Homo sapiens: one gene and its partner. The protein of the gene in region 2 interacts with the protein of the main gene of each other region in a pairwise test. Each region holds a gene or a part of one and is shown on either strand. Other genes may lie near its edges.

Region 1 (3,592 bases), about 50 Mb from region 2:
ACCCCAGAAACAGCCCAACCGGCTCCTTCCCACCAGCTGCCTCTTTACTAAAACATCCGAAACCTTTTTCTCACTTTCCCCAAGCTGTTTTCCTCACCCTTCAGAGGCCTGCTGGGAAAACAGTTCGAAGCAGGCAATTCTGCAAAGTGGGGGGGAAACAAAAACAACCAGCTCAGAGTTAGGGCTGTGCAGCCAGATGCAAGCGTGAAAACAAAACCGAACCGAAAAATCCCACCACTGTGCGGAAGGAGTGCCACACAGGCTGGGATGAGAACCGTCGGGGTTAGGGAAATGTCTCTGTAAGAAACCCTCAAGGACTAGAATTACTCCTAATGGGAAAAACGTGTAAACATGTCCCACTTAAATGAACATCACGATGCAAATGCTTAGTTATGAGGACTGAAAATGAACCCCTTTCAACCCAAAACGTGCAAGAAAGAGAAATTTCGGCATTTTAATGATGCCCAAGGACAGGCAGTCAACCAACAGCACTTGGAAAGGGCAAGTCTGGGCAGAGGTGCACATCCCGGCCTTCCTGTGTTTCTTGGGGGCCATTGTTTTCTCAGGAGGGAGGAAAAGAGGGAGGGAGGAAGGAAAAAGGGATGGAAGGAAAACGAAAGAGGAAGGGAGGGAGGGAGAAAAGGGAGGGAGGGACAGAGGGAGGGAGGAAAGGAAGGAAGGAGGAAGGGAGGGAGACAGGGAGGGACAGAGGGAAGGAAGGAGGGAGGGAGGAGAGGGAAGGAGGGAGGGAGGGATGGGGGAAGGAGGGAGGGGAGGAAAGGGAGGCAGAGAGGGAGGGGAGGGAGGGAACGGAGAGAAGGAAGGGAGAAAAGGGAGAGAAGGGAGGGAAGGAAGGGAGAGAAGGAAGGAAGGGAGAAAAGGGAGAGAAGGGAGAGAAGGAAGGAAGGGAGAGAAGGAAGGAAGGGAGAGAAGGAAGGAAGGGAGAGAAAGAAAGAAGGGAAGGGAGGGAAGGAAGGGAGAGAAGAAGAGACAAGGATGGGAGGGAAGGAAGGAAGGAAAGAAGGAAGAAAGGAAGGATTTGTTGGCTGAAGAAGAGAGGGAGGGTTGGACGGAAGGAGGAGGGAAGGAAGAGACCATGTGAGAGGAGGTGAGGAAGACAGGAAGAGAGGGGTGATAAGGAGGCTGGGGGGAGAGGGAAGGCGCTGATGCCATCCGGATCCATCCAGGCTGCCTCGTCCATGGGGCCTCCGTTTATACAACTATCCACTAAGTGAAGGAACCGGCAAAAATCTCTGCTCCCGGGGAACACTTTCACCAGCTGCCGGCTTTATTCACTCAGAAATTTTGATGCCAAAACACCCGAAAGTACATCATAACTTGAGGATTTACAGACAAGAAAGAGGAGCACAGAACTGACCGTGGGTGCCCTGGAAAAAGTTGCTTTCAACAAGGACCACAACAAAAATAAAAATAATAATAATGATAAACCTCCCTCCACTCCCAGGATCAAGGGGTTCAGACAAACTGCAGTCCAGACGGACACGCGGCAGACAAATGAATGAGGAGCTAATGCATTGCTCTGGTTTATTGAACAACAGTCCAACTTTACAGCATTAAATAAGGGGCAACCGTTCAGGAGGGGAACGATGGCTTAAAAATAAAAATGAAGACAGAGCCGGGACAGTTCACATTTCCACGTGAGTGAGGAAAAGCGAAGGATTGTTAGAGACGTGAAGAGAACGCTGGCAATGCTACAGAATGGAGCCCACGGAGGCGTGGGCTGCCCTGCGTCCCCGGCCTCGGGGCAGAACAGGGAGCAACCCCAAAGCCTGCCCCACTGTGTCCCTTCCAGCTGCCCTTCTGCCGAGAACACCCGGAGCTGAGGGTTCCAAGTTCACGGCGGAACCGCTTCCCTTAAAAAGAAAGCAAAGGTTACGTGGATTTCTCCCGTGCTTCCTTTTCCACAGACTTAAACCGGCTCAGGACGTAAGGATAACATTCTGTGCTGCTTGCAGCCCTGAGAAGTCAGCAGCCGTGAAAGGCAGGTAGTTCCTTTGCCCTCTGACACCCCGAGTTCTTGGGGTCTCGGCAGAACACTGCCTGGAGCTGAGTGGGGTCATCCCTCCTAGACACCGTTCTCCCCAGCCCAGCTTGTCTTCACGGAGGCAGAGAACCCGCTGCACGTAGAATCCAAGCAATATGCTAAGCCTCCTGAAGTATTTTTCCTCCAGTTAAAAAGCAGTTCTACATGTTGGAAAACGTCTTTCTGTTTCCCTGAATGACTGAAAGCAACTCGCAGGAATCCAGCCACGGAAAACCCCTCCGGGGGCAATATTTTAAAATTCATTTCCCCTATGGTATTCAGTTTAAAAGAGAAGAATCAAGAGTCCTTTCCGGTAATCAAATCAAAAACACCTTATGTGGAAAAGCTGGCCGCACGGGGGAACTGGACTTTTAGGGCTGAGACACCGAAGACATAACCTCCGGACCCGTGAGCCACCCACTTTTGTTTTGTTTTGAGACGGAGTCTCACTCTGGCCTCCAGGCTGGAGTGCAGTGGCGTAGTCTTGGCTCACTGCAACCTCCACCTCCTGGGCTCAAGCGAATCTTCCGCCTCAGCCTCCCGAGTAGCTGGGATTACAGGCGGGTGCCACCGCATCTGGCTAGTTTCTTGTATTTTTAGTAGACACGAGGTTTCACCATGTTGGTTGGCCAGGCTGGTCTCGAACTCCTGACCTCAGCGTGAGCCACCACGCCCGGCCACCGCCCAGTTTTAAGGACCAACTCCGCAAAGTGAAATTTCGGCAGGCAGCAGGAAGCAGGCTCTCTGGCAGCAACCTGTCGAAAATACAACACATTCCACACTTTTTTTTCTGTTTGCTTTTTGTTAAGTGTCTGCATTTTTGTACTCATCTGTCACATTTTTAACCGAACATTAAAAAAAAAGGTCTCTCTTTTTAAGAAGGGCATTTTGGCTAAAAGGTCTCTTCCCCATTTCTCAGAAGCAAGAGGTCCCTGCTTGCACGAGAATGTAAACATGAATTCAGTGATCTGGACCTCGCAGAAGTCACACATGATGATCGGGAAAGGCTCCTTCGACGCCACCCAGAATGTTCCTGCGTTTCTTCTAAACCCTCCCAGGGAGAACTCGAATCAGACATGGTGGAGGTCTTAAGTATCTGTGAAGGAAGGAACAGCTCCTCTAGGCTCTGCTGCACGCAATTCCCAAGCAGAAGCGTTGGCAGTTCCCAAGCAGAAGTCGTCCGGGCCCCGGGAATAGGGGAGGAAAGGAAACCCACTCAAAGCCACCTCTCTTGTGTCTTCTTTTTTCTTTTTGAGAGAGTCTCGCTCTTGTCGCCCAGGCTGGAGTGCAGCGATCTCAGCTTACTGCAACCTCCACCTCCCAGGTTCAAGCGATTCTCTGGCCTCAGCCTCCAGAAGCTGGGATTACAGGCACATGCCATCAGTCCTGGCTAATTTTTGTATTTTTAGTAGAGACGGGGTTTCGCCATGTTGGCCAGGCTGGTCTCGATCTCCTGACCTCAGCTGATCTGCCCACCTCGGCCTCCCAAAGTGCTGCGATTATAGACAGGAGCCACCGCCCCCGACCCTCTCTCACTTCTCAAATCTC
Region 2 (5,968 bases):
ATTTTCTTGTTCTAAAACCTCAAGGGCTGCGATGGTCACTCAGCAGCCTAGTGGATTGCCACCGTATGTGGACCCATGTTCCCCTGGCTTAATGGTCAGCATTATGCCATCGTCCCACAGCACTGCAGACACAGAGTATCAACCTCCAGAAAGGGCCTTTCCAAGGAGGACTATATCAGGACTGACATTTTCATGATCAACAGCCAGCCATCTACCAGTTCTGGCCAATCCTATCTGTATTTCATCAACAATGAACAGAACCAAGCTGGGAGCATGAGATGGGACGAGGGCAAGTAAAAATACCACAAAGCTCACTGTTCTTACGGAGATTCAGCTGGTCTCTCTCTCGCTCTTTCTTTCTTTCTTTCTTTCTTTTTCAGTCTTGCTCTGTCGCCCAAGCTGGAGTGCAGTGGTGTGATCTCAGCTCAATGCAACCTCCACTTCCCGGGTTCAAATCATTGAGTGAGCCCAGGAGGTCAAGACCAACCTGGGAAACATAGCAAAAGGCAGGGTGGTGCATGCCTGTAGTCCCAAGGCCGAGGCGGGAGAATCACTTGAGTCCCAGAGGTAGAGCCCAGCCTGGACAACATAGCGAAACTGTCTCTAATAGAAAAATTAAAAATATTAGTGGGGGCGGGGTGGTGTGAGCCCATAGTCCCGAGGCCGAGGCGGGAGGATTGCTTGAGCCTAGGAGGTCGAGGCCAGCCTGGCCAACATAGCGAAACCCCATTTCTGCTAACAACAAGAACAACAGAAAAATAGCGTGGGCGGGGTGGCTCACTCCTGTAGTTTTGAGGCCAAGGTGGGAGCATTGCTTGAGCCCAGGAGTTTGATACCAGCCTGGCCAACAAAGCGAAAGCCTGCCTCTCCTAAAAAATAAATAAATAAATAAATAAATAAAAATGAGCGGGGTAGAATGGCACACGCCTATAGTTCTGAGGCCGAGGTGGAAGCATCATCTGAGCCTGAGAGGTTGAGGCCAGCCTGGGCAACATATCGAAACCCGGTTTCCACTAAAACGAAACAAAACAAAACAAAAAATAGCTTGGGCAGGGTGGTGCATGGCTGTAGTCCTGAGATGGGAGGATCCCTTGAGTCCAGGAGCTTGATGCCGGCCTGGCCAACATAGGGAAACACGGTTTCTACTAAAAAAAAAAAAAAAAAAAAAAGCGTGGGCAGGGTGGTGCATGCCTGTCGTCTCGAGGCCATGGCGGAAGGATCCCTTGAGCCCAGGACGATGAGACCAGCCTGGCCAACATAGCAAAACCTGGTTTCTACTTAAAAAAAAAAAAAAAAAAAAGCGTGGGCTGGGTGGTGAATGCCTGTAGTCCCGAGGCCGAGGTGGGAGGATCGCTTGAGCCCACGACGTCAAGACCAGCCTGGCCAACACAGCGAAACCTTCTCTATTAAAAAATCAAAAAATAAAAAATATTAGTGGGGGTAGGGTGGTTCGCGCCTGTAGTCCCAAGACGGAGGCTGGAGGATTGGCCAAGGCAGATGTAACCAATACCACAATCACATCCCATAAGTAAATACATTTTCCTCTCTTCAGGGCTACAGGTAAAGGATGGTAATTGTGCGCACCATACTTAAGATTCCCTTTCAAAAATGTAAGCAGAGGTTGCGGGGCCTTGGACTGTTTTTTCAGTGGCAACAGACATAGAAGCCACTGAAGAATGAAAGCCACGACTAAGTATAGCAAACCTCCGCAAATGTGCTAGTTTGGAAAACATCGTGTCTTTCAAGTAGAAAAATCACAGATTGACTATTTTTTTCTTCCCACAGTTCAGACTAGAATCCAGATTTTTAACCCAAGATCCAGGAACGGTCTTCAGAGAGTTCAAAATCTGACGGCGCCTGAGGACCACCCACTTTTTCGCAGTGGCAACAAAGTGTGGCTGGAGGAGGAGACATTATTCTGCTATGTCACTGCCCAAGGATGATGGACCAATCAGGGCAGTTAGTGAACTCCATCTGGCCAATTAGAAGTCAGAACAGTAGGCGGAACAAGCGAAGCGGATGTGGCTTCTATCAGTCCCGGCTCCAGGGACGGAACCTTCTCAAAGTGGGGGTGGAGACTCTAATTTTCCCGCCTAAAGCATCCCCTGGGATTGGCTACTTTAAGTTCAGAGTACGCATGCTCTGACTTTCTCTCTCTTTCGATTCTTCCATACTCAGAGTACGCACGGTCTGATTTTCTCTTTGGATTCTTCCAAAATCAGAGTAAGCATACGCCGATTTTCTTTTTCCATTCTTCCTACCCCTCCCCTCCTCCGCGGTGCATTTGCTATCTAGTTTTAATAAGGAGTGTATATGAGGCAGGCCGCCATCTCGAATCTTTCCTGTCAGTTTCTAACTTTTTCAGGTACGGGATTTTTCCTAGGAACTCTGTAGTAACTTAAGAAATTTGGGCCGGGCGTGGTGGCTTACACTTGTAATCCCTGCACTTTTGGAAGCCACAGCTGGTGGATCGCCTGAACCTAAGAGGCGGAGGTTGCAGTGAGCCATGATCACGCCAGTGCACTCCCGACTGGGCAACAGAGCGAGACCCTGTCTGAAAAAACAAAAACCAAAAAAGCTCACTCAAATCTTTCCTCCTGGGCTCAAGTGAGCCTCTCGCCTAGGCCTTGGGGCTACAGGCGCGCACCACCCCGCTTCTGCTAAATTTTGTTTGTTTTTTTTAGTAGAGATGGTTTTGCTACGTTTGCGAGCCTGGTCTCAAGCTCCTGGGCTAAGGCGATCCGCCCACCTTGGCCTTCCAAAGTGCTGGGATGGTACAGGCCTGCTCCACCAACCCCAGCTAACTTTTTGTGTATTTTGTAGACGGGGGTTTTGCTGTGTTTCCCAGCCGGGTCTCGACCTCCTGGGCTCAAGCGGCCTGCACGCCTCGGCCTCCCAAAGTGCTGGGATTACAGGCGTGAGCCACGGCGCCTGGCTGATTGCTGCATCTTGAAATGCCCCACATTCTCTCTAAGTGATGGCGGGCTCTTGTAGTCTCAGAAATTCTAGCTCTCTTCCTTCTAATAATTTACAAATCACCGAGTAATAGCCTCTGAACACGTTCATATTAGCGATGCTCATTTCTCTTCAACAGAACAGAACCCCCCATCCCTCTGCCTGATCAGATCCATCGCCAAAGAGACCATGTTATCTCTGGGACTAACTTCCCTTCCTTTATTTATTGAGTGGGGGTGTCAGCATGCCCCCACTGAATAAAATTACACAGTCATGTCCCTGCCTCCCCAAAAAGGGTCCGTACATCTTTCAGGGTAAGCCTAGCTCCAGGGAAACTACTAACAACATTAGCCAACCCCCTCCCAAAGACTCAAGGCTGCTTTGCCCATAGGAAACCTGTCATTCCCTATCAATACTTCTCCCAGAGACCCCTGGTTCCCTGTTTTCATCTGATTTCTCCCCATATCCTTACTCAGGGACAGATAAGCCCCGGATGGAGAAATGCAGCAGCTGATTCCAGGTGACTGAGGGTGGCCGGCCTTCACTGACTTCTCCCTCCACAGGATCAAAGCTGCTGTGGCTGGAAAGACTCAGGCTATTTCTCTTGCAGGTCAGACTGCTCCCGGTGCCATGAACGGAGACGACGCCTTTGCAAGGAGACCCACGGTTGGTGCTCAAATACCAGAGAAGATCCAAAAGGTGAGGTGACCTGGAGGGAGCAGAGTAGTGGCCCAGGGGACAGTGTGGGGTGACCCGGTTTCTGAGGAGGGGAGGACAGAGATACTGGAGACAAGGAGCAGGGTCTCGGGGGAGATCTGGACCCTTGGGAGCCTCCCACCCTCGCTCTGTCATCACCTAGCATCCCTGGAGACAAGTCTGTGACCTTGCACTACATCTGGTGACTCTCAGTCCATTCTGGAAGGTGGGAAGAGAGCCAGCCAGCAGCATTAAAGCCCTACTGTGTGGCAGGGGTGAAGCTAGGGAAGGTCCCTCGTGTTCTGTCAGTTAGCCATGGCATCAACCAGGAAGGATTATCATCCCCAGTTCCCAGATCTAGCACACAGGAAGCGGCTCCAGCTGAATGGCAGACATGCCTAGCTGAGTCCCTGCCATAATTCCTTTTTTTTTTTTTTGTAGGCCTTCGATGATATTGCCAAATACTTCTCTAAGGAAGAGTGGGAAAAGATGAAAGCCTCGGAGAAAATCTTCTATGTGTATATGAAGAGAAAGTATGAGGCTATGACTAAACTAGGTAACAGAAAGTTCTGGGAACAGACAAGTCTGGGGACACATGAGCATCCCTTTTCCTGCTTTGGCTACTTCTTAGGCTGCAGAAAGTACCTCACATTTTCCTTTTGTGCAGGGAAAAATCGCAAGGCAGCTTCTGGGTGTTCTGCTCTTCTGTATCCTGTCAGGGCTGAGGGCAGGGACTGGCCACAGTGGAGCTTATACCTGGATCCTGCACGTTTCTCTCCCTTAGGCTTCTGTTCTGATGAGCCCAACTGTCTCTGTGGCATCCCGGCAACCCCCCTACCCCCACCCCACACACACCCACCCTACCTTCTCTCGGCTTGTCTCTTCCTTTTTTTTTTTTTTTTTTGAGTCAGTCTCAGTCTGTCACCTAGGCTAGAGGGCAGTAGTGCAATCATAGCTTACTGCAGCCTTGAATTCCTGGCCTCAAGCAATTCTCCAGCCTTAGCCTCCCAAAGTGTTGGTACTACAGACATGAGCCACCATACCAGGCCCAAGCTTGTCTCTTAAGGAATAAACATTTTGCTTCTTTCTAGGTTTCAAGGCCACCCTCCCACCTTTCATGTGTAATAAACGGGCCGAAGACTTCCAGGGGAATGATTTGGATAATGACCCTAACCGTGGGAATCAGGGTGAGTAGATGGGAAGGGGCTGGAAAGGGTCTCCTCAAGCCCAGCTGCTTTTCAGCTCAGCTACCTGAGAAAGATCCTCAGGCATTTGTTCCCTCATACACATCAGGGCTGAGTGAAAAAAAAAAAAAAAATTGCATGCAGAAAGTTAACTACAGAGGCCATTCATATAAAATTTTAAAACATGCAAAAGAAGAATATATATTTTATGGATAATAAGTAAATGGTAAATGTATACAAACATGAATGTGAATAAAAAGCCATCAAATTAAGGTGACTGGCTGTAAGTGGAGGAGGGAGGGAGGGCGGGCAGGGATTACTGAGTGCGGCACAGACAGCTTCAGCTGTGACTTGTTGATAGTGTGTTTTGTTTGTTTTTGTTTTTGAGATGGAGTTTCACTCTTCTCGGCCAGGGTAGAGTGCAATAAGGCAATCTCAGCTCACTCCAACTTTCACCTCCTGGGTTCAAGTGATTCTCCTGCCTCAGCCTCCCGAGTAGCTGGGGTTACAGGCACGTGCCCCCACACCCAGCTCATTTTTTAATTTATGGTAGAGACGGGGTTTCACCATGTTGGCCAGGCTGGTCTCAAACTTCCTGACCTCAGGTGATCCACCCGCCTCAGCCTTCCAAAGTGCTGGGATTACAACTGTGAGCTACCACGCCCGGCCTATTTGCAGTTTTTCTAATATTCTGAATAAATAAATCAGACCTAACATAGCTGTGGGGTAATGTTGAGATCCGACTGGACTCAATATTATTCCCCATACTTTTCTGTGTGTTTGAAATATTTCTTTTTTAAACGACATGTTGTTCTTCCTAAGCACCGTTAATGAATCAAAGGACTGCTAAAAAAATGCTACAAGTGAAAAAAAAAAAAGAAAGAAAGAAAGAAAGTGTTAAAACTGTAGATCCGCCAAAAACTTCCAGAGTTTGTTTCATTAACAGCATGTAGGTATTGGATAGGTATCTTAGGAGTGAGGGTGATGAACACATTATGTAATAAAGATCGCTGTTTCTCTGTATTGGTTTATCAAAACCAAATAGTCTTCTCATTCCCAAAGAACCCTGATTCTCCGTAATGAGCTTGGAAGAGAGTTTGAAGGAGTGATCCCTTATCCAACACACAGAGAGC

The links. The genes of interacting proteins can lie anywhere in the genome.
Region 1: the proteins of SSX2 (region 2) and ZBED1 interact in a two-hybrid assay, tested with the Homo sapiens proteins (one large-scale study listed by BioGRID).

What each region holds. Positions count from the first base shown.
Region 1 is NC_000023.11:2,484,904-2,488,495, forward strand, and holds the end of ZBED1 (E3 SUMO-protein ligase ZBED1), read right to left. Parts: 3' UTR 1,532-3,592; downstream 1-1,531.
Region 2 is NC_000023.11:52,703,367-52,709,334, reverse strand, and holds the start of SSX2 (protein SSX2), read left to right. Parts: upstream 1-2,156; 5' UTR 2,157-2,223; intron 2,224-3,565; 5' UTR 3,566-3,585; coding exon 3,586-3,654; intron 3,655-4,092; coding exon 4,093-4,207; intron 4,208-4,742; coding exon 4,743-4,838; intron 4,839-5,968.